7 linked regions of the Homo sapiens genome follow. The protein of the gene in region 1 interacts with the protein of each later gene in a biochemical or structural test. Each region holds a gene or a part of one and is shown in the gene's direction. Other genes may lie near its edges. The genes, in order: LATS1, SMURF2, MTF1, PPM1F, MOB4, EIF4EBP1 and DCAF1.

Region 1 (3,500 bases):
TATGATGAGCCTATTAATTAGAATGGGCATCTTTCCAGAAAGTCTGGCACGATTCTACATAGCAGAACTTACCTGTGCAGTTGAAAGTGTTCATAAAATGGGTTTTATTCATAGAGATATTAAACCTGATAATATTTTGATTGATCGTGATGGTCATATTAAATTGACTGACTTTGGCCTCTGCACTGGCTTCAGATGGACACACGATTCTAAGTACTATCAGAGTGGTAAGTAAACTCATAAAATTTATTTTAGTTTGTTCATAATAATGTAATTTATTGATGTAGTAAAATATAAGATGGTATCATCACTGGATGAGAGCCAGAAGATGTGGGTCAGGTCTTGATTCTGTTGGATAAACTTGGGTGACTCCATTAGGCACTTAGACTTATGAAATGAAAGAATGTGCTAGACTTGATTGTTTAGACTTATGAAATGAAAGAATGTGCTAGACTTGATTGTTTCTAAATATTATTAACATTTTTGAGTCACACCTTTTACATTTTATTTGAAAATATGCCAGACAAACAATTTTTTTTTTTTTTTTTTTTTGATGGAGTCTCGCTCTGTCGCCCAGGCTGGAGTGCAGTGGCACCATCTTGGCTCACTGCAATATCCCCCTCCTGGGTTCAAGTGATTCTCCTGCCTCAGCCTCCCGAGTAGCTGGGATTATAAGCACCTGCCAGTACGCCCGGCTAATTTTTGTATTTTTAATAGAGATGGGGTTTCACCATGTTGGCCAGGCTGATCTCGAACTCCTGACCTCAGGTGATCCACCTGTCTCAGCCACCCAAAGTGCTGAGATTATAGGTGTGAGCCCCCTGCGCCTGGCCAAAAACATTTTTAAAATAATTTTTTAATGAATCCTCATATCCAACATTCAGTTAAAGAACTAGATTATCAGTACTTTAGAAGCCCTTAAACAATCACTTCCCCTTTTCTCCTCCACAAAGATAATTATTATTTCAGAACTTTATAATCGGTTCTTTACTTTTATCGATCCTTTTATCACAAATGTGTATATCTTTAAATAATATATTATTTCATTTTGCCTACTCTTTAACCTTTATTTAAATATAATCTATATATATTCTTTGTGTTGACTTGTTTGAGGTTCCTCCATGTTATTGCTTGTAACATTTATTTTCACTACTATTTAGGATTTCATTACATGACTGTTACACAACTTATATAACCCTAAACACTTTATGATCCTTGATCCTATTTTATCCTCACAATGTCACTGTGAGGCAGGATGAAGAAACTGAGACCTAGTTAGATGAAGTAACTTGCCCAAGGTCAGACAGAAATCAAGTGTAAGGGCTAGGCTTTGAACCCAGGTTTGTCTGATTTCAGGGCCCATGTTATTTCTACTACACCACACTGCCTCACCAAGATCCCTCCAAGCGCTAATGGAAGTGTAAGTCAATCTAACATTTGTTAAATACTATGTACTAGGTGCTTAACCATATATTCTAATATGCTCGCAACAATTCTCTGAGGTAAGTATTATTAGCCTCCTGTGCTTCTGTGAACACAAGTAGATTGACATTAAAATGGGTAGAACTGAGACAATTGAACCTACTTTAATGTTCGACATAGTGGAATTTAGTGTCTTCCCAGATTCGACTGAATTATTACCTGGAAAGCTTCTTAAAAATATGATTCCTAGGCTCTATTCCCATCTTTTGATCAAAAATCTTCACTGGGGCATAGAAATCTTTTTGTTGTTTTTTGTTTGTTTGTTTGTTTGTTTTTGAGACGGAGTCTCGCTCTGTTGCCCAGGCTGGAGTGCAGTGGCGCAATCTCGGCTCACTGCTAGCTCTGCCTCCCAGGTTCACGCCATTCTCTTGCCTCAGCTTCCCGAGTAGTTGGGACTACAGCCGCCGGCAACCACGCCCGGCTATTTTTTTTTTTTTTTTTTTTTTTTTTTTTTTGGATTTTTAGTAGAGACCAGGTTTCACCGTGTTAGCCAGGACGGTCTCAATCTTCTGACCTCATGATTTGCCTGCCTCTGCCTCCCAAAGTGGCTGGGATTACAGGCGTGAGCGACCACGCCCAGCCTGTTTGTTTTTTTTTTTTTGAGACGGAGTTTTGGTCTGTTGCCAGGCTGGAGTGCAGTGGCGCGATCTCGGCCCACTGCAACCTCCATCTCCTGGGCTCAAGCGATTCTCCTGCTTCAGCCTCCCAAGTAGCTGGAATTACAAGTGTGCTCCACCACACCCAGCTAATTTTTGTATTTTTAGTAGAGATGGGGTTTCACCATGTTGGCCAGGATGGTCTCAATCTCTTGACCTCATGATCCACCCTCCCTGGCCTCCCAAAGGGAAATCATATTTTAATCAAACATCCCAGATAAATATTACAGTTAGGTTAATTTCTTATATTCTAGGTGACTTCATGCCATCTATATGTCAATGAATTCCAAATCTCTCTCTCCAGAAATGGCCTTTCTCTGAAATTCGTAATTTCTCTATCCAGCTGCTTCCTGGCTATCTTCACATGGATTTCAAATAGGCCTTTCAAACTTCACATGACCCATAAAGAACTTTTTTTTTTAAGCATAAATCAGATACTGTTATCTTCTTGCTTCGAACTCTGCAATATCTTCTCACTTTACTTGAGGTAAAAGGCAGACCATTTCTATTGCTTGCAAAACCCACATGTATTCCTGCCGCATTTCTTACAGTTCTTGCCCCATTTCCTACAGTTCTCCCCTTTATCAGCTGTGCTGGTCTTCTCTCTGTTGCTGTTATTTCTGTGTGGAATACCTAATCCTGATTTATAAATGGTTGAGTCCTTCTTGTTTTTTTACGGTTTAGCTGAAGTCACCTTCTTAACTGGTCTTCCCTAGCCATTCAGTCTTATGTAGCTATCCAGTCACATTTGTTACATCACCCTGTGTTGATTCTCTGTGTAGGGTATGTCACTGTTCCTTATATGTGTAATTGTTTTGTTTCTTTTCCTACTAGAATGTAACCAGAGCTTTGTCTTATTATCACTGTCATTTATTGAATGAAAGATGGATCTAATTTGTTTGAAAGTTTGTCCAGAGTAGTAACAGGGAGTGGGCTAAATAACAAACTCTTAATCTCCCCATGACTCATATTGTTGTTATTTAACATTGCATAAATTACTAAATCTTAGGCTAATTTTTTTTAAGTGTAAAATCCTTCCTATTGACATCTCAGAAAATAGGCTCTAATTGGTAATAAACACCATCAGTGATTTGGCATACATTGTGTCTTAGTTTGTCACAAGGGAGAATGTTGTTAACCCTAAACCACGATGTCAGAAGATTAAATAGACTTCAGGTTTACTGTTGTCATTGTTGACTTTATTTACTTATTCTTTTGTTGTGCAGGTGACCATCCACGGCAAGATAGCATGGATTTCAGTAATGAATGGGGGGATCCCTCAAGCTGTCGATGTGGAGACAGACTGAAGCCATTAGAGCGGAGAGCTGCACGCCAGCACCAGCGATGTCTAGCACATTCTTT
Region 2 (2,763 bases), on another chromosome or scaffold:
GTAGGGAAGTCGTTCACTTCCATGTTCACATCTTGACCTGGTGAAACGTTTACCTGCCTGGGATGCCTCTCCCCTCTACTTTTCGTTCTTTCTCTTATTAGACAGAAGCAGCATGGGTCATGGAAACCATCTGTTCGGTCAGAGCATTTTAATTACTGCATGGCATCAGACCATTTGTTTACAACCATATTCCTTTTTTAAGAATGGTTTTCTGTGGAATAAGCTGGTTAATTTTGGGAGGAGCTGGTAATATTGCTAATGATTGTGGTGCTTCACTGGGTGGCAGTTGCTTCCTTTACCTCTTAAGCACTTCATTTTCAAAGCTGCTGGTGATGAATAAGGACACACAAAGCGACACTGGTACATAATTCGACAGTGCTGCCCACAGCGCATGCGCTGAAATCCCTGGGGGGAGAGCGTGCTTTCAGCTGTGCTGCCCTTCTCTGTAAGGAGAGCTCCTCATCCTCACACTTCCCAGATGCATAAAGTGAAGTTGTATTTCTGCTACATGTATTTATATGGGGTGCCTGTGCGAACTGAAATGGATTCTATAGACGGCTCTTTTGCTGTCAGCCCAGTTTGAGTCATGAAATCTAAATTTGCATCAGGTCGTCATCTTTTTGAATGTGTGCCTATGTATTTTACCTTGGATTTGCCTGATTACTTTTCTTCTCATGCTTTTGGGATATTGACTTTCTATAAAAGATAGAAATTGAGAAAGGGATTTCAATCTTGAGTTTTTTCTCAAATGGAAATGTGAACCTATTACGGAATCTAAGCCTTATCCAAGGTTAATTCTGGCTCTTAAAACCCAGATGCTTTTCCTGCTGCCCTTTGGTAGTATGTGTGGATTCATTAGCATTCCCCTATCCCCAGATCCTGTGGTTAACTTACCAGTTTTATTCTTAAGATTTTGGAGACTAATGCACGCACCTGCAGTGATTTCATCCACATTTCCTTCATTTGCAGGTGCTGCAGGCCCGAGACTCTTTACCATACACCAGATTGATGCCTGCACTAACAACCTGCCGAAAGCCCACACTTGGTAAGGTATTTTTGTAGCTGTATTCCCCATTCCATGTACATAAGTGTTAGTTCCAAACAGATTTGACTTTTTATTTATTGTACTTACTAGTGTTAAATGGGCCTTTAAAGGGAATGATAAGCAACTTAAGTGATTTAAAAGTTAAGATTATTCGGAAATTGGTAGGAAAACCCAAAAGTGGTCATCTCTGTTTTAGAGAAATACCTTTTAGTTTTCTGTGTGACACAGAGTGATGTGGCTATACTGGTATACACTTGCTAGGCCAGTTTACTTATTTTGAATGAACTGTATAAAATTTGATTTGCTTATTCACAGCTTCAATCGAATAGACATTCCACCCTATGAAAGCTATGAAAAGCTATATGAAAAGCTGCTAACAGCCATTGAAGAAACATGTGGATTTGCTGTGGAATGACAAGCTTCAAGGATTTACCCAGGACTCTATTTATACAACCCTGACTGACAGCCTCCTTTCAGCAGAGTTTCAAAGAATATGCTGAAATACAGGAAAACACTCCCCCCCCCCCCCTTTTTTTTTTTTTTTTTACATTTTAGGACACTGTGAGGGGAAAGGACAATTTTGAAATTCCTTTTCAAGGAAAAAAAAGGTCTTTATGCTTTGCCATGAGGCCACATTCAGCTGCTATTTAAACTTAATATCTTGAACCTAAAGAATGCTGACTTTTCCTACATTTCCAGAGTTAGGCAGTATTCTACACTTAAAGACTACTACTATTTTTATAAAAGGTAATCTATTCAAATTTCTTCACAGATTTCAAGTCTCTCAAACATCAAGACAACTTCAGCAGTCGGTACAAGTCACATTTCATTTTGATTGAATACATGATCTTGAACAGCTCCTGTACTTGCTCTTTGTAAAAAAAAATAAAATTATTTTGAATTATTCTACCTTTGTAAACAATTGGCTAAAAGAATCATCTTTAAGAAATTAAGCCATTTACATGTTTGTGTTTTTCTATAGCAGAGCATTATATTTTGCATTATATGTTTCAACCTAGTCTAAGTGGGTCTTTTTTACATTTTTCAAGAACGGATTTCCTGGAATACAGCGATATAATTTTGGTTGTCAAATTCCTAATGCAACCATTTAGTCTAAACTTAGTCATTTATTTGTGACAATAAGATGTGTTCAGGGGCTCCCTGTTTTTAAGAGACTCTTTTAAAAAAAAAAAAACCTAATGTTTTTATCTTGAGTCAATATGATTAGGTATTTTGGATTTACTTTTAATCTTAAAATACTGCATTTTTATAGCTTCTCAGAGCATGTGGATGGGATGGGATTTTCGTTATTTTGCTGGGTCAGCTTATCTTTAATATATGGACTATTCCTATAAACCAAAGTCTCTGACAAGTGCACCTAATTTATATTGTATTTTAACTACAGTGTAAGTTTCCATTAACAAAACCATCCTAAAGCGTTAACTGCTCATAATTTTAATCAGCTACAGTTATGAAAAAGGAAGAATTTTGCTCTAAAGATTATTAATAAGCTTAGAAAATCCTGCTTTTACCTAACAGAATGAAGTGGGGTTGAGGGGCGGTAGTATGAACAGTGATTCTAACTCTATGGCGTAAATTACTTTGAAGAGTTCATTTTGGAAGTAAGGGAATCCCGCTTCCCTTGGTGTTGAAGATCTGCATCTGATTTTGAAACGTCCAGATTTAGCTTTCAAGGTGCGTGCATGTTGAATGATCCA
Region 3 (3,500 bases), on another chromosome or scaffold:
TGTAGTTTATGTTTGGGGTTTCATTTAAATCTGAAGAAAGGATAGTGGCCTTGTTCATGGGAAGAATCAAGGACTTTTGTAGAAGTACGAGAGAACTTCGTACGTGTTATTGGAGTTTGATGAATGAGCCATGAGTTGGGCATGATTCAAAGGTTTTGAATAGGCCAGGCACAGTGGCTCATGCCTGTAATCCCAGCACTTTCGGAGGCAGAGGCAGGTGGATCAGTTGAGGTCTGGAGCTCTAGACCAGCCTGGCCAACATGGTGAAACCCTGTCTCTACTAAAAATACAAAAATTAGCCGGTTGTGGTGGTGCATGCCTGTAGTCCCAGCCACTTGGGAGGCTGAGGCAGGAGAATCACTTGAACCCAGAGGGCGGAGGGTGCAGTGAGCCATGATTGTGCCACTGCATTCCAGCCTGGGCAACAAAATGAGAATCTGGTTGGAAAAAAAAAAAAGGTTTTGAATCATGTTGATTGAAAGGATTCATCCATTTTCCCAAATTTGTTGAGTTTCTGCTGTGTCTTAGCACAGCTTTTTGATGGAGCTCAAATCTAGGTGAAGAGTTAAGCAGTTAAGAGTCCGTTGTGGTAGATATTTTAACAGAGGTGTATTCGAAGTGCTGTGTGCATGCTGAGGAGAAAGTGGCTAACTCTGCTCTCCGCACCCTCCAAATGGTGATCCCATTCATAGGAATCAAGAAAGATGGGAAAAGGAAAAAGTTTTGATGGGGTAATTAAAGAGTTTGGTAGGAGTGTATTGAATGTATAGTCCTTGGAGAAAAGTAACATGAACAAATGGAAAGCTCATTGGAAACGTGTATCTGAGGTCAAAGAAATGGTTTGGAGTTAGAATAGTAGTAGAAAGGGGCCTTCAAACTGTGGGTAGTTTACTTAAGGGAGAAGTAAGAGTTGGCCTGAGAATTTAAGGGTTGGAAAGAGAAAGAGGAACCCAAGAAGATCACAGTAGTCAAAGAGATGGGTCGACTGCAGTGTTGTGGAAGCTGAAGGAAGAGAGTGTCAACAAATGAGAATATTCCTGTGTGACCCTGCAGAGGGATTGAGGAGCCCCGAAGAAGCCTTTAGTTGTGCTGGTTGTGCAGTTGTTCACATATCATGAGAAGACTTGCAGCAGAGCACTGGGGCTGAAGCCAGGTTTTGAGTGATGAAGAAGTGAGTGAGTGATGAGGAAACAGGAGGCAGGAAATGTCAAGTTGGCTTTTTTTTTTTTTTTTAAATAAGTTTGGTAGTTAGAGGAAGAAGAGTGATGAGGCAGTAGTAGCTAGCTCAAGGAGATTGAATCATTTTTGTTTAGCATAGGTAATTTGGACATAGTTTAGGACCTAAACTTTAGGCCATCCTCCATCAGTGATTACTGTGTGAAAGTGTTTCATGAGCGAATGTTCGGGAAACATTAAGTTAAACCAAGACAGAAATTTGTTGATTAGGACTTCTCAGAGCCTTTGATGTGCCAACAGCTAAGAAGGAAGAAAACACAGAATTTTTCAAATGCTTTAAACTTGAGAAACCATTTTTCAGATCTAATTTCCAGGGATCAGTGTTTTGTGGAACACATTTTGGGAAATGCTGATCTAGGCAGAAGAGGAGGAGATGGTACAGAGGGAATGATTATGCAATCAGTGAAAAGCTGTCACTTTTCCACTTTGTACTATTCAAATTGGTTTATTCTATTTGCAAGTCTGGTTTGCCATTCTTGTCTTCAGATCATTGATAATCATATTGAATAGCACAGGGTCAAGGATATTATGAGCACTTTGTTCAGTTTGCTGGGGATTTAGCTCACTCCACTTTCCTCTCACCCACATTTTTCCATGCTATCCATGAGACCTTTGTGGAAGATGCTATATTCTTGAAATCAGTAGGTTTGGGGTTGGGTGGAGATTGAAGGAGAAGTAGCAGTAGCTTTAGTCTTCGAAAATCTTGCTTAATGACCAGACATTCAGGAGGCTTGCCTTCCTGAAGCACTGTCTTAGCTTAGCTTTTGTTTTGGCAGTGATTTTATTTTGGCATTAAAATCCACTTATTTGGCCTGAAGAGGCTGATGTTTATGACTACTCGATAACAGACTTCATGATCCTTTAGCTCTTCCTTACTCCTTTTCCTTTCGTTTTTTTTCAGCTTGGTTTTTGGTTTTTTCTTTTCCCTCCATGCACAGGTGTTACTCTTGAGAAATCAAATCATTTGATAACTAGTTGGTCTTCTTGGCTTCCCAAGCAGCTTATTTTCTGAGTCACATTTTAGCCTGAATTTCCTGTTTACTCCTGGTTTTTTCATTGTTTCATATAGTGTGGAGTTGGCTTACCTATTACTTCATTTTCTTTTCTTCATGCTTGTCTTGCGCAAAAAATAAACCAACCAGAACCTTGCCACAGATAGTCTTTTCCTACCACAAGGCCGCTGGTCATTCTGACTCGAATTTCACGTATCTTATTCTCATACTTGTTATTTCATTACTGTCTCCCTACTGATTTGGTAGCTTTGAGATCTCTCTCTCTCTCTCTCTCTCTTTCTCTCTCCCTTTTTTTTCTCTTTCTCTCTCTCATTCCCTTCCTCCCTCCCTTCCTTCCTTCTTTTCCCTTTCTGTCTTTCTTCTTTCCTTTCTCTCTTGAAACAGGGTCTCACTGTGTCACACAGGTTGGAGTGATTACAGTGGTGGGATCGTAGCTCACTGTAACCTCAAACTCCTGGGCTCAAGCAATCCTCCTGCCTCGACCTCCCAAAGTGCTGGGATTATAGGCATGAGCCATGGCACTTGGCCAGCTTGCAAAATTTCTAATCAAAATATTTTCATTCTGCCTAAAAACAAAAGCTTTTTTTTTTTTTTTTTTTTTTTGGTTGAGACAGGGTTCCATTCTGTAGCCAGGCTGGAGTACAGTGGCACGATCATGGCTCACTGCAGCCTTAACCTCCCAGGCTCAAGCCGTCCTGCCACCTCAGCCTCCACAGTAGCTGGGACCACAGGCATGTGCTACTGTGCCGGCTACTTTTTGGTGGTTGTTTTGGTAGAGAGGGGTCTCACTATGGGCTGGTTCCAAAATCCTGGGCTCACGCAATCCTTCCACCTTGGCCTCCCAAAGTATTGTGATTACCGGCATGAGCCACCATGTCTGGCCCTTTAAGGCCTTTCTACTCCAAGTCTCGAAGCAGCTGCGTCTTGTTGTTTGTTTGTTTGTTTACGTATTTTATTTTATTTTTTTAAGACACTGGGTCTTGCTATGTTTGCCCAGGCCATCATCATAGCTCACTGTAACCTGGAACTTCTGGCCTCAACCAATTCTCCCTCCTTAGCCTCCTGAGCTGCTGGGATTAAAGGCATGAGCTACCACACCTGGCAACTGTGTTTTCTTTAGTTGGTTTGTGCAGTCCATTCTTGAATCTGTGCCCTTCCATAGAACCTGCCAGGACGGTCTAGTTACCTGTTCATCTACCTCTGTCTGCACTACATTGGTGACGTGATGTATCCTCCATGGCTAACTGACCT
Region 4 (3,500 bases), on another chromosome or scaffold:
CACTTCTTGACAATGTCCACCCAGCTGCTGCTCCTGGCACCATCTCCTGAGACCGGATCTCTGGATGCCCACAAGTCCCCACCTGGACTCATGTCAAAACAGTGGCCAGGGTTGTCCCTCCACCCTCTAGTGGCCCTGAACCATGAGGCCATGCACCTGCCACATGGTGCTTGCAGGTGGGCACCTGCATTGCTGGTGCCATGGCCCCCTGATTCTGCTGACTCTGACATTTCTCCCCAGGGTGAAGCCTGGAGACCCTCTTGCCCTGGCCTAGCTGCAGGCCCCCGGGATGCTTTGGGCATGTCCTCTGGAGCCCCACAGAAGAGCAGCCCAATGGCCAGTGGAGCTGAGGAGACCCCAGGCTTCCTGGACACGCTCCTGCAAGACTTCCCAGCCCTGCTGAACCCAGAGGACCCTCTGCCATGGAAGGCCCCAGGGACGGTGCTCAGCCAGGAGGAGGTGGAGGGCGAGCTGGCTGAGCTGGCCATGGGCTTTCTGGGCAGCAGGTAGGCCTGTGCACCCCCAAAGGGGACGGGGAGTAAGGGCACGGCACCAGGGCCGACAAGGGATGTGGCTGCTGCTCCCCTACACGTCCAGCCCCACACGGGGATCTGCAGCCCCGGATCCCTATGCAGCACCATGTGGAACTCCCGTGGCTGCTATGGCAAAGCACCACACACTGGGCACTCAACACAGCCAAAGCTCATTCTTTCACAGGGCTGGAGGCCAGAGTCCAAGATCAAGGTGGCAGCTGCGCCATGCTCTCTCAAAGGCTGCAGGGAAGAGTCTGCCTTTCTGTTAGTGCCTGGCCTTGACTTCCTGGAGGTCCTTGGCTTGTAGACTCATTCCTCCTAGCTGGCCTTGTTGCACACGGCATCTCCCCATGTGTGTGTCTGTGCCTTCACACCTCCCCACCCTGCCTGCTGTGTGTCTGTGACTCCTCCTCTTGTAAGGACATGGGCATTTTGGACCAGGGGCTGCCCTCCTACAGTGTGATCTCATCTTTCTTTTTGTGGAGAATGGGGTCTCGCTATGCTGCCCAGGCTGGTCTCGAATTTCTGGGCTCCATGGATCCTCATGTTTTTGCCTCCCTAAATGCTGGGATTACAGGCATGAGCCACTCCAGCCAATGTGACCTCATGTGAACATAACTAATTACATTTGCAAAGACTTTAACTCCAAATAAGATCATATTCTGAGCCACAGGGGGCTGGGGCTTCAACATACCTTTTAGGGAACACAATTTATTGCATAGCAGCTGATAAGCAGTACGTCCTGTTTCCGATCCGTGTGATGGACGAGGAGGCAGAGGTGGGTAGATGAAGAGGCTGGCCTGAGGCCTTACAGTCAAGGAGTGGCAGAGCCACATGGCACCCCAGCCACCACGATCTGAGAGATAGCTGGCACTGTCCCCCTTCCACAGGTGAGGAAGCTGAGGCACAGAGAGGTAGCACAACTAGCCGAGCAGATTTCGGGGAAGATAGAGAGTTGGGTGTCCACCGGCAGACAGTGTGTAGCTGTCGCCTAGGCTGAACTCAGAGGTCCTTTCCTTGGAAGACCCTTGCCCTCCCCTTCATTTATTCATTCATTCTGGAAGCATTTGTCCCATGAAAGATGGTGAAGGACAAGGTCTTTTCTCGAACCCTCTCTGCTCAGACAGGGTCTTGGAGTTAGGCTGTCTGTCTGGCACAGGGGACAGCTCATGGAGGTGAGCAGGCTGGTGGGCCGCGTGCTGTTTCTGTGAACCTAGTCCCTTGCTGAGGGGATGTGCGCATGGTCCCCAGTCCCAGCATCACCCAAATCACCTGAAATATCACCTGAAGCCATGACAGGCCCTCAGCCATAGCTCCCTCTGACAGAGCCACCATCCTCGGTGGCTGCCTCAGTATCCCCCAAGTGTGCACTTCCTTTGCCCCTTGCAGCGAATCAACTCTGTTCCTGACACCCACCAAGGGCCTATTTTCCTTGACCCCAGGCCCTAGCAGAGTCAGTGACTTGTGCTCTCCCTGTGCAACATGGGCACAAACATTGCTAAGTGTCAGCCACATGCAAGGGCTATGCCACCCAGCATCCCCCACAGCTGCCTAGAGCTCAGGAGGAAATGTCCGGTGACCACGCTCCATGAGGTCATGGCATGCGCAAAGGGTGTTATTGGCTTGTTTTGAGGAAATATTTTAGATATGTGGCACAAAGTGAATCAGCCCCCAGTGGTGGAGCAGAGTGGGCCCAGCAGGGGTGCCAATGCACGGGAGGTGAGGAAAGGCCTCACGTTCTGCCTTCTTGAGAGGAGCAGGTGGCACTCTGCAGGGAGCAGGGGAGTCCAGACCAGGGAGTTCTGCAGCCACTGGGTCTTCGTGGAGGTGGCATGGGGCCATTGCTGCCTTGAGGCAAAAAGCCAGGCCCGGGACAGAAGGGTTGGTGCACTTTGGCCCAAGCATGAGGTGACCGGGCAAAGCCAAGCGGTGCCAGCCCCAAGCTGGGGATCAGATGGAAAAGCCATCCCGGGGAACAACAGAGCCCAGGGGTTTGCTGGGCCTGCGTGGGGCACAGGTGCTGAAGACGGACAGGCCGCAGCACCGGGGTGACAACATCAGCCTTCAGTTCCTGGGCAGGGGGAGAAGGGCGCAGAGCAGGGTCCCAGGGAAGGATCCAAGGTGGGAGGGCCTGGAGGGCTGAGGAGTGAGTAGGCAGTGCAGGTGACCTGCCCAGGAGGGCCCCGAACCAAAGTGTTGGGGTCAGTGCTGGGGGCGCAGGGGAGGGCAGTGGGTTTTGGTTTTGATGCGAGAGCAGCCAGACTTGTTGAGCGGCTGCTGTGTGAGCCACCTAGTGATGGGTGCGAGCAGGAGGGGTGCAGAGCTCCCGAGTCTCCTCAGCCCCCAGGAACCCACCTTACATGGTGAACTAAAATGGAGTATTTGAAGTTGTTATATGTTCCAGCCATCTTATTGGATTTATTTTTTAAGTTATTTTTGTTCTTTTCTAGCATCTTCTTTCACACGCAGGTGTGGATGTGCATAGGTGTAGTCAGCACTTGGGGTCTGAGCCTCACACGTTGTCTACACTAAGCCTGGCTGTCCACACACACGCACTCACATGTGCCCATACACAGTCACGAGTTCCACCTCCGAGCTCTGCTTCCCGTGTCCCAGCCTGAGGAGGGGCTCTTGGGCATGAAGGGCTTTGAGCATCTTGGTCCCTGAGCTCTTTCACAGACCGTAAAAGGCATCCTTCTGGAGGCCATCCAGGAGTCAGAACATCCAGTCCACAGGGGGCTATTTACGCCTTGTCTCCGCTCTTGTTTGGAGCCTCCTGTCACATATTTGAGTCCCTGAGCAGTGCATACCGTACACTAATGATTTGAGTGTGGTTTTTGTCTCTGCCACTAGACTATAAGCCTCTTGTAACAGCCCCTGCCCCAAGGTCGGTGAGACGTGTTTCTCAGGCACCTGGGCCTTGCATACACCTTGGCTTGTCCCTGGAGCATCTTCTTGCCTTGTGTA
Region 5 (3,500 bases), on another chromosome or scaffold:
TTGTATTTTTAGTAGAGATGGGGTTTCAGCGTGTTAGCCAGGTTGGTCTCGAACTCCTGACCTCAAGTGATCTTCCCGCCTCAGCCTCCCAAAGTGCTGGGATTACAGGCGCAAGCCACCACGCTGGGCTTCATAGTTGGTTTTCAATAAATGTTTGTTGGTTGAATTAGATGAGAATCTTTATTAAGCTGAATTTTTGGTGTCTCTCATAGGCATCTAAAATATGTCACAGTTATGAGAAGGCGAAACATTTCATTCTCAACATCTTTTCTATATATAGTCATCATTGGTGTCCTCTGGGGATTGGCTCCAGGATAACTCCGTACCCCCACCCCATACCAAAATCTGAGGATGCTTAAGTTTCTTAAGTAAAATGGCATAGTGTTTGCATATAACCTATGCACATTCTGTTATATAGTTTAAATCAACTCTAGATTACTTAATAATACCTAATGCAATGCGTGTTCTGTAAATAGTTGTTATACTGTATTTAGGGAATAATGACCAAAAAGAAAGCCGGTACATGTTTAGTACATACGCAACTATCTTAGACCTAACTAGGTACATAGTACATGTCAGCAACAATATAACATTTTCTGTATTTTTTTTCTCCCCTGAAATGAATATTTTCAATTCCTGGTTGATTGAATCTGCAGATTAAACCTGCAGATATGGAGGGCCAACTGTACATGTGTTTTCTAATATTTTAAAAACAACATTCTGTAAACTTCCTTAGTTTTTTTAAAAAGGAAAGAATAGACAGAGTATTGGTAGAAACTTTAGATCATATAGGAAAAATTTTAGAATTGCTCTTTAATAGATAATGTCTAAGAAAAGGAATCCTGGAACCATTTCTAGAAGATTGTTTTATTTCTTGATATTTTCCTTTAATAAAATTAGTTCATTTTCATCCAGATAGGCCAGCTATTTCAAAAAAGATGAAATGTTTAAGACACTTAAAAAGGTGTACTCATTACCTACTGTCCAAACGGGGACATTGCTACTATAGTTGAATCCTTATGGAAGACATTCTCTGTCTTCTACCCTATCATTCCTTTTCTTTTCTGTATACTTTTACTATATATGCATTATATCCATAAGTATGCCTTGCACTTAAACTTTTTTTTTTTTTTTTGAGACAGAATCTCGCTCTGTCTCCCAGGCTGGAGTGCAGTGCTGCACTCTCGGCTCACTGCAAACTCCGCTTCCTGGGTTTGCGCCCACCACCACGCCTGGCTAATTTTTTGTATTTTTTCATAGAGATGGGGTTTCACCGTGTTAGCCAGGATGGTCTCGATCTGCTGACCTCATGATCCGCCTGCCTCGGCCTCCCAAAGTGCTGAGCGTGAGCCACCGCGCCCGGCCTAAACTTTATTCATTTTATATACACTGTGTTTACTTCTAATTTGCTTTTTTTGCTCAAGGTTTTGAAGACTTAATCTTTGTTGATTGTTTTTACAGGTTTATATACAGGTTTATAGATTATTGGTTTACTCTTACCTCCTCCCCACCAAGTTTTACCTCAGAGACATTTGAGCTTCAAAGATGTGTCAGGCATTGTGCTACCCACTGAGGTTACATAGGTAAACTTTTCTGAAAAATCAGTCAAATGGAAAGGTTCTTAATCACTTAGGGGAATATCTGTTAACTGTATTATCTACAGAGAATTCCAGAACCAGGGCAAGATGCTCTATAAAAATATCCCCCTTAAGCTGGGCATGGTGGCTCATGCTTGTAATGCCAGCACTTTGGGAGGCTGAGGCTGGAGGATTGTTTGTGACCAGGAGTTTGAGACCAACCTGGCCAACAAAGTGAGACCTCGTCTCTTAAAAAAAAAAAAAAAAAAAAAAAAGAAGAAGAAATAAAAATATTCCCTTTAACAGAAAGCTGGTTTATTTGATGTTTCCTTCTCTTTTTAAAATTTTTGTGGGTATATAGTAGGTGTATATATTTGTAGGTTACATGAGATATTTTGATACAAGCATGCAGTGTATAATAATCACATCAGGGGGGTAAATGGGGTATCCATCACCATAAACATTTGTATCGGGGAACCTGCCCCGATAGTCACGTAGGTTCTTTTCTATTTTCCCTAAGCATCAGCCAGTTTGAGAAATGAAGGGACAGAGTACAAAAGAGAGAAATTTTAAAGTTGGGCGTCCGGGGGAGACATCACATGTCGGTGGGTACCGTGATGCCCCACAAGCTGCAAAACCGGCAAGTTTTTATTAGGGACTTTCAAAAGGGGAGGGAGTGTACAAATAGGGTGTGGGTCACAAAGATCACGTACTTCACAAGGTAATAGAATATCACAAGGGAAATGGAGGCAGGGCGAGATCACAGGACCACAGGACCAGAGCAAAATTAAAATTGCTAATGAAGTTTCGGGCACCATTGTCATTGATAACATCTTATCAGGAGACAGGGTTTTGAGAGCAACCGGTCTGACCAAAATTTATTAGGTGGGAATTTCCTCTTCCTAATAAGCCTGGGAGCACTATGGGAGACTGGGGTTTATTTCACCCCTACAGTTTCGACCATAGAAGACGGCCATACCCAAGGGGGCCGTCTATAGACCCACCCCCAGGCGTGTATTCTCTTTCCCAGGGATGTTCCTTGCTGAGAAAAAGAATTCAGCGATATTTCTCCCATTTGCTTTTGAAAGAAGAGAAATATGGCTCTGTTCCGCCCGGCTCACCAGTGGTCAGAGTTTAAGGTTATCTCTCTTATTCCCTGAACAATTGCTGTTATCCTGTTCTTTTTCCAAGGTGCCCAGATTTCATATTGTTCAAACACACATGCTCTACAGTTTGTGCAGTTAACACAATTATCACAGGGTCCTGAGGTGACATACCTCCTCCTCAGCTGACAGGATTAAGAGATTAAAGACAGGCCTAGGAAATCACAAGGTATTGATTGGGGAAGTGATAAGTGTCCATGAAATCTTCACAATTTGTGTTTAGAGACTGCAGTAAAGACAGGCATAGGAAATTATAAAAGTATTAATTTGGAGAACTAATAAATGTCCATGAAATCTTCACAATCCACATTCTTCTGCCGTGGTTTCAGCCGGTCCCTCAGTTTGGGGTCCCTGACTTCCTGCAACACATTTGTCCTTTATGTTGCAAAAAATTAGATTCTTTTAGTTTTTTTTAAATGTACAATTAAATTGGTTTTTACTATAGTCACCCTATTGTGCTAGCAAATACTAGGTCTTATTCATTCTTTCTATTTTTTTTGTACCCATGGGTGATTACCTTTTTTTTTTTTTTTTTTTTTTTTTGAGATGGAGTCTTGCTCTGTCACCCAGGCTGGAGTGCAGTGGCGTGATCTTGAGTCACCACAGCTTCCGCCTCCTGGGTTCAAGCAATTCTCCTGCCTCAGCCTCCTGAGTAGCTGGGATTACAGGCGCACGCCACCATGCCCGGCTATTTTTTGTATTTTTAGTAGAGACGGGGTTTCATCATGTTGGCCAGGCTGGTCTCGAACTCCTGACCTCA
Region 6 (3,166 bases), on another chromosome or scaffold:
AAAAAAAGTGGTCCCATCTGGAGCCAGGATGTCCAGCCACTTGTCCACTGAGTCCCCACCCCGCTGCCTGGACCCTGGGGTCTCTGGGCTTCCCTCCCCTCTGGGGAGGAGAGATTGTACAACCCCAAGCCTTGCAGAGTGGAGCAGTGCCACATCTGGCCTCTAGAACCAAAACAAATCTGGGTCACTTTTTAAAAAAAAGAGTTAGAAATTGGTCTTCCCTTACCTCCCCTCACTGTCACCCCAGCCCTGCAAAGAGAGGGCACCACTGCTCTCCATTTGTAATCTGGGCTCATAGGCACTCAGACCTAGAAGGTGCATGGGTCTTTATTTTACAGATGAGGAGATGGAGGCCCAAAACAGGGGGTGCAAGGAGCAAGGTGCATAGGGTCACACAGCTGACTGGGAACGGAGCCCAAATGCACCCTGGTTCTTTACACCCCTCCTCCTAAGAAACAGCTGTGCGCTGGAGTCCCATAGGCAATGAGCAGGGCTGTCAGCTTCAGTATCACTGCCTCTCCTGCAAGGGGACAGGAGAGTAAGACCAGTGACTGCCTGGAGGGGCCACAGCCAGACTAGAGGAACACAGCCAGCAGGTGAAGTTTATCTTTAGGTATCTCTCTGCATTCCTCTGCCCTTCAGCATCTCACGTCATCCTCAGCACAGAGCCCCGTTTCAGGAACTCACACTCAGACTCCGAGATGGAAATTGGTTCCTTTCCAGGGGTTTACAGAGTCCAGTGCTGAGCATCAAGAAATGAATCTCAATATGTACAACTATTATGGATCCATAAAAATTAAAAATCAAAAAAGTAAAATAAAGTGTAAGAAATGAATCTCAGCTGTTGGAATGCTACTCATCATAGCCCCTAAGTGAAGGAGAGATTTCAAGGTTATTGCTAAGGAAGGGCATTCCTGAAGTCCTTAAATCATGATTCCCAAACTTGGGTTATTCATATTTTATCTGCACAATTATTACCATACCTTGCATTCCACTTGTACAGATATTTAATATTTCTTTATATCACCTTAGCTTTTGAATTTAATTTACATTATTTTATTATAGAATCTATAATATATTATTATATTATTGTATATTAAAAGGAATTGCTATCACTACTATATATGGAACACCGGATTCACTTGCCATAAATAGAAGGTAGCTATAAAAAGATACAAAGGGGCCGGGCACGGTGGCTCACACCTGTAATCCCAGCACTTTGGGAGGCCGAGGCAGGCAGATCACGAGGTCAAGAGTTTGAGACCAGCCTGGCCAACATGGTGAAATCCCGTCTCTACTAAAGATACAAAAAATTAGCTGGGCATGGTGGCACGCACCTATAATCCCAGCTACTTGGGATGGTGGGGTAGAATTCCAAGGTCAGTGACACACTGGCAGGACACACTGGGGGCCTCACAAAGGAGGGGCTCAGCAGGAGAGCCCACCCTTCACTCCTGCCTCTGGCTCTTCTCCGCAAAGCCCAGGCATTTCTCTCTTTTTTTTTTGGAACTGTCTTTTTGAGATAGGGTCTCACTGCAGCCTGGACCTCCTGGGCTCAAGCAATCCTCCCGTCTCAGCTTCCCGAGTAGCTGGGACTACAGGCACGTACCCATCATGCCCGACTCATTTTAACATTTTTGTAGAGATGAGGTCTCTCTAAGTTGTCCAGGCTAGTCTCAAGCTCCTGGGCTCAAGCAGTCCTCCCACGGTGGCCTCCCAAAGTGCTGAGATTACAGGTGTGAGCTACCACACCTGGCAAAAGTTCTTATTTTTACTACTCTGGTTGAATCACAAGTATTTTCTGTTTGGTCATTTGTAAAATGCAGCTATTCTGGGTATCCCACAGGAGTGCTGTAAGGACAGGACTGAATAATGACTAGAAATGCATTTTTTCCACCGTGGTATGTGATTGTCATGGGTAATTAACACTAAGCCCAGGTGGGTGAGTGAGCTGAGGGGCTATAGGGACAGAGCACAGTGTGCACAGAGCTCTGGGAAGACACAGGTGCAGTTGGTGGCCTGCAGACCCCTTCCATTGGATCATTCCATGTGAAGGGGAGTTGGGGCCGTTTGGAGGTAGCAGAGTTCTGGGTGGCAGCCAGGCCCCCAAATAAGCCTCACTACTCTGGCTTTTTTTTTTTTTTTTTTATGAAAAGGAGTCTCGCTCTGTTACCCAGGCTGGTGTACAGTGGTGCAATCGGCTCACTGCAACCTCTGCCTCCCAGGTTCAAGTGATTCTCCTGCCCCAGCCTCCTGAGTAGCTGGGATTACAGGCTACCACCACCACGCTGGCTAATTTTTGTATTTTTAGTAGAGACGGGGTTTCACCATGTTAGCCAGGCTGGTCTCGAACTCCTGACCTCAGGTGATCCACCCATGTTGGTCTCCCAAAGTGCTGGGATTATGGGCATGAGCCACCGCACCCAGCCTCCTCTGGGTTTTTCAGGAGAATCTGCTGCCTCTACTGCAGCCACGCCTTTAAAAAGTGGAAAAACCGGCAGGCAAGAGGCTGCAGATGGCTTGACCAACCTCCCTGTTCCCTTCTAGGTACCAGGATCATCTATGACCGGAAATTCCTGATGGAGTGTCGGAACTCACCTGTGACCAAAACACCCCCAAGGGATCTGCCCACCATTCCGGGGGTCACCAGCCCTTCCAGTGATGAGCCCCCCATGGAAGCCAGCCAGAGCCACCTGCGCAATAGCCCAGAAGATAAGCGGGCGGGCGGTGAGTGTCGGGGCTTGGCCAGGCTCTACCTTGGGAAAGGGAATGTATGAGGCTCCTGGAGTCCATCCACTGGGGGCAATTCCAGGGAGGAGGAACAACAGGGACTCTGCCCTACCCTCTAAGGAGCAGCTCAGAGCCCAGAGGGTGAGAGTAGGGGTGGGGAGGTTGAACTCTTCATTGGTAGCAACTTTCCCCCTGAAAGGGGCCCAGGCACCTCAGGAAAGGTGATCTGGCACCTTTGGGTCATGTAATTAGCGGGGAGTTTGTTTGAAATGGCAGCGGCTGCACACAGCAACTTTCGTAAGCATGTGCCTCTGTATAATTGTCTCTGAAGCATTTCCACTTGGAACACACCCATGATGTTTGTGGTGCAAGAGACAAGTTATCAAAGACACAGTGTACTTGTCCTTTGGGAAATTATATGTCTACAAGATAAGAA
Region 7 (3,500 bases), on another chromosome or scaffold:
TTTTTTTTTTTGTGGAGACAGAGTCTCTCTCTGTGGCCCGAGCTGGAGTGCGGTGGCTCAATCTCAGCTCACTGCAACTTCCGCCTCCTGGGTTCAAGCAATTCTCCTGCCTCAACCTCCCGAGTAGCTGGGACTACAGGCGCCCGCCACTAAGCCTGGGTAATTTATTTTTTTAATTTTTATTTTAGTAGTGACAGGGTTTGGCCATGTTGCCCAGGCTAGTCTTGAACTCCTGAGCTCAGGCAATCTGCCCGCCTCAGCCTCCCAAAGCACTAGGATTACAGGCATGAGACCACGCCTGGCCCTGGCCTGATTATTTCTTTAGGACAGATTGTCAGAGGTGAAATTTCTAGGACAAGGTTTATGAACATTTTAAGAATCTTGTTTCATATTTCCAGATTACTTTCTTTTTCTTCTTTTTTTTCATTTTTCTTTTTTTTTGTTTTTCGAGACAGGCTCTCACTCTGTTGCCCAGACTGGAGTGCAGTGGTGTAATCACGGCTCACCACAGCCTCAACTTCCTGGGCATAGGTGATCCTCCCACCTCAGCCTCCTGAGAAGCTGGGACTACAGGCACGTGCTACCACACCCGGCTAATATCTTATATTTTTTTTTTATAGAAAAAGATAAAACCATGTTGCCCATTCTGGTCTCAAACTCCTGGGTTCAAGTGATCCTCCCACCTTGGCCTCCTAAAGTGTTGGGATTATAGGCTTGAGCCACCGTGCCTGGCCTCCAGATTACTTTCTGGAAAGAGTGTACTAATTTCTACTCTCACCAAAACTTTGAGAGTACGTGTCTCTATATGTTTTCACTAGGATGAAAGGATTCAGGATTATTCTATGTTTTTTATCATAGAAGTTTAATAGGTAAAAATTCCATTGCTATATTTTTTGGAAGTAATGTCATGGTGACTATAAAATCCTCTCTTGATGCGACAGCTTGAGATAGAGCCACACTGGTAGTGCTTCTGATTTATTGTCTCTGTGTGTATGTGTCTATCTGTCTGTGTGTCTCTCTCTCTGTCTCTCTTGATTCTTGTGGCTATACTCTAATTTCCCTTTGACTAATTCTTCCTGTCCAGGAATGACACTGTGCGCTTTGCTTTGGATGTCCTGGCTATTCTTACTGTGGTGCCAAAAATCCAGCTCCAGTTGGCAGAATCAGTGGACGTGTTGGATGAGGCTGGATCTACAGTCTCTACTGTAGGTAGGTTGTACTTTGCCATTTTTGTTGTTTCTTGGTCTGGATTTGTTTTTTCTTTGCCACTCTGGTCTTGGTTACTTACCTGACCTAATTTTGGATTTTAGAACAGAAGTAGTAGAGGGGGGCTCCTTGTCTGTCCTTTATAAGGAGTACCATTCAGCAGATCAGGAACTAATTTAAAAAAAAAAACCAAAAAACAAAAATACAAATGTAGGACCAGATAGTTTGATGTAAGGGAGTCATGCTAGTAAACTCAGGTTTTCTGAGTGGTACTGGCATTTCTGCTATAATGGTATATTATAGCTTTCCTGAAAAGCTCACACTCTGAAGAGTCTTGCACTAAAAATAAAGTTCATGGGAAAAATGGGTTGAGGCAGATAGTAAAAAACTTAAGCATCACAGCTTTCCAGGAGTTAAAGGGAAAAAAAAACAACAAAGTAAGCAGTTTTGTAACCTGAGTCAGTAATTGGCAGGTAGCTCAAAATGGGTAGAAACCGTCATACATATATAAAAAAAGGAAAATATACTTTGATAATATACTTTATTAAGAGCAAGGCTGATCAGGGCACTGCTGGGGTGAGCATGGGAAGTCGTGTGATGGGACAAGATGCAGGATAGGACTAAGACACAGGCACTTGGTTTTTAATTTTCTTAAAATAGAGTGGAAAGGGTTCTGCTTCCACAGTAGCAGCCCAACCGAGGGCTTTCTCCGTTCCTAAGGTTTTAGTGTATTAAAATTAATAAACCAGAAAAGGTCGAGCACAGTGGCTCACACCTGTAATCCCAAAACTTTGGGAGGCCGAGGCGGGTGGATCACCTGAGGTCAGGAGTTCCAGACCAGACTGGCCAACATGGTGAAACCCCACCTCTACTAAAAATACAAAAATTAGCTGGGCGTGGTGACAGGCGCCTGTAATCCCAGCTCTTTGCAGGGATGAGGCAGGAGAATCACTTGAACTCGGGAGGCGGAGGTTGCAGTGAGCCAAGATCACGCCACTGCACTCCAGCTTGGGCGACAGAGCGAGACTCTGCCTCAAAAAAATAATAAAACCAGAAAAAATTGCACATGAACCTTGATTACTTTTCCATAATTATGACATGATTTCCCTATTTAATAACTGCATATGAGATACCATAAAAATACATTGTAGTAGAACTGTCTGCACTTTATACAAACCCTTGCAGTTTTTACAAAAGTAATATAGTTTTTTAAAGTAAAAGTGAGTAGAACACCAAATTTTGACTCTGGAACAACTATTGAAGTTGGCCATTAGTTTTATGGTGAATAATACATAATTTTTTTTCCCATTAGGTATCAGCATTATTTTGGGAGTGGCTGAGGGTGAGTTCTTCATCCATGATGCTGAAATTCAGAAGTCAGCACTTCAGATTATCATCAATTGTGTGTGTGGCCCAGATAACCGAATATCCAGTATTGGTAAATTTATCTCTGGTACTCCTCGGAGAAAGCTGCCTCAGAACCCTAAAAGCAGTGAGCACACCCTGGCCAAGATGTGGAATGTGGTTCAGTCCAACAACGGCATCAAGGTGCTCCTGTCCTTACTGTCCATTAAGATGCCCATCACAGATGCAGACCAAATCCGGGCCCTGGCCTGCAAAGCCCTAGTGGGCCTGTCTCGCAGTAGCACTGTCCGGCAGATCATCAGTAAACTGCCCCTTTTCAGCAGCTGCCAGATCCAGCAGCTGATGAAGGAGCCTGTGCTGCAGGACAAGCGCAGTGACCATGTCAAGTTCTGCAAGTATGCTGCTGAACTCATTGAACGGGTGTCAGGAAAACCACTTCTCATTGGCACTGATGTTTCCCTAGCACGACTGCAGAAAGCAGATGTTGTTGCCCAGTCAAGGATCTCCTTCCCTGAGAAAGAGCTGCTTTTGTTGATACGAAACCATCTTATTTCTAAAGGGCTTGGAGAAACAGCAACCGTGCTGACAAAAGAGGCTGACCTGCCCATGACTGCTGCCTCCCATTCTTCTGCCTTTACCCCAGTCACTGCTGCTGCTTCTCCTGTCTCTCTACCCCGAACCCCTCGTATCGCTAATGGCATTGCAACTCGTCTGGGCAGCCATGCTGCTGTGGGTGCCTCTGCGCCTTCTGCCCCTACTGCTCATCCTCAGCCACGGCCCCCCCAGGGTCCGCTAGCTCTGCCCGGCCCATCTTATGCAGGCAACTCCCCTTTGATTGGTAGAATCAGTTTTATCAGAGAGAGGCCATCACCCTGCAATGGCAGGAAAATCAGAGTGTTGCGGCAGAAGTCGGACCATGGTGCCTACAG

Evidence for each region.
Region 2: the proteins of LATS1 (region 1) and SMURF2 interact in a test that uses a peptide from one of them, tested with the Homo sapiens proteins (one study listed by BioGRID).
Region 3: of the proteins of LATS1 (region 1) and MTF1, one has a biochemical effect on the other in vitro, tested with the Homo sapiens proteins (one study listed by BioGRID).
Region 4: of the proteins of LATS1 (region 1) and PPM1F, one has a biochemical effect on the other in vitro, tested with the Homo sapiens proteins (one study listed by BioGRID).
Region 5: the proteins of LATS1 (region 1) and MOB4 form a complex in vitro, tested with the Homo sapiens proteins (one study listed by BioGRID).
Region 6: of the proteins of LATS1 (region 1) and EIF4EBP1, one has a biochemical effect on the other in vitro, tested with the Homo sapiens proteins (one study listed by BioGRID).
Region 7: the proteins of LATS1 (region 1) and DCAF1 form a complex in vitro, tested with the Homo sapiens proteins (one study listed by BioGRID).

What each region holds. Positions count from the first base shown.
Region 1 is NC_000006.12:149,676,602-149,680,101, reverse strand, and holds part of LATS1 (serine/threonine-protein kinase LATS1), read left to right. Parts: coding exon 1-227; coding exon of another isoform or gene 228-235; intron 236-1,356; coding exon of another isoform or gene 1,357-1,420; intron 1,421-3,364; coding exon 3,365-3,500. UniProt on the Homo sapiens protein: Negative regulator of YAP1 in the Hippo signaling pathway that plays a pivotal role in organ size control and tumor suppression by restricting proliferation and promoting apoptosis.
Region 2 is NC_000017.11:64,544,545-64,547,307, reverse strand, and holds part of SMURF2 (E3 ubiquitin-protein ligase SMURF2), read left to right. Parts: intron 1-969; coding exon 970-1,045; intron 1,046-1,360; coding exon 1,361-1,460; 3' UTR 1,461-2,763. UniProt on the Homo sapiens protein: E3 ubiquitin-protein ligase which accepts ubiquitin from an E2 ubiquitin-conjugating enzyme in the form of a thioester and then directly transfers the ubiquitin to targeted substrates.
Region 3 is NC_000001.11:37,849,593-37,853,092, reverse strand, and holds part of MTF1 (metal regulatory transcription factor 1), read left to right. Parts: intron 1-3,500. UniProt on the Homo sapiens protein: Zinc-dependent transcriptional regulator of cellular adaption to conditions of exposure to heavy metals. Binds to metal responsive elements (MRE) in promoters and activates the transcription of metallothionein genes like metallothionein-2/MT2A.
Region 4 is NC_000022.11:21,942,849-21,946,348, reverse strand, and holds part of PPM1F (protein phosphatase 1F), read left to right. Parts: intron 1-240; 5' UTR 241-300; coding exon 301-506; intron 507-2,914; exon of another isoform or gene 2,915-3,500. UniProt on the Homo sapiens protein: Dephosphorylates and concomitantly deactivates CaM-kinase II activated upon autophosphorylation, and CaM-kinases IV and I activated upon phosphorylation by CaM-kinase kinase. Promotes apoptosis.
Region 5 is NC_000002.12:197,519,066-197,522,565, forward strand, and holds part of MOB4 (MOB-like protein phocein), read left to right. Parts: intron 1-3,500.
Region 6 is NC_000008.11:38,054,534-38,057,699, forward strand, and holds part of EIF4EBP1 (eukaryotic translation initiation factor 4E-binding protein 1), read left to right. Parts: intron 1-2,547; coding exon 2,548-2,727; intron 2,728-3,166. UniProt on the Homo sapiens protein: Repressor of translation initiation that regulates EIF4E activity by preventing its assembly into the eIF4F complex: hypophosphorylated form competes with EIF4G1/EIF4G3 and strongly binds to EIF4E, leading to repress translation.
Region 7 is NC_000003.12:51,420,016-51,423,515, reverse strand, and holds part of DCAF1 (DDB1- and CUL4-associated factor 1), read left to right. Parts: intron 1-1,084; coding exon 1,085-1,209; intron 1,210-2,518; coding exon 2,519-3,500. UniProt on the Homo sapiens protein: Acts both as a substrate recognition component of E3 ubiquitin-protein ligase complexes and as an atypical serine/threonine-protein kinase, playing key roles in various processes such as cell cycle, telomerase regulation and histone modification.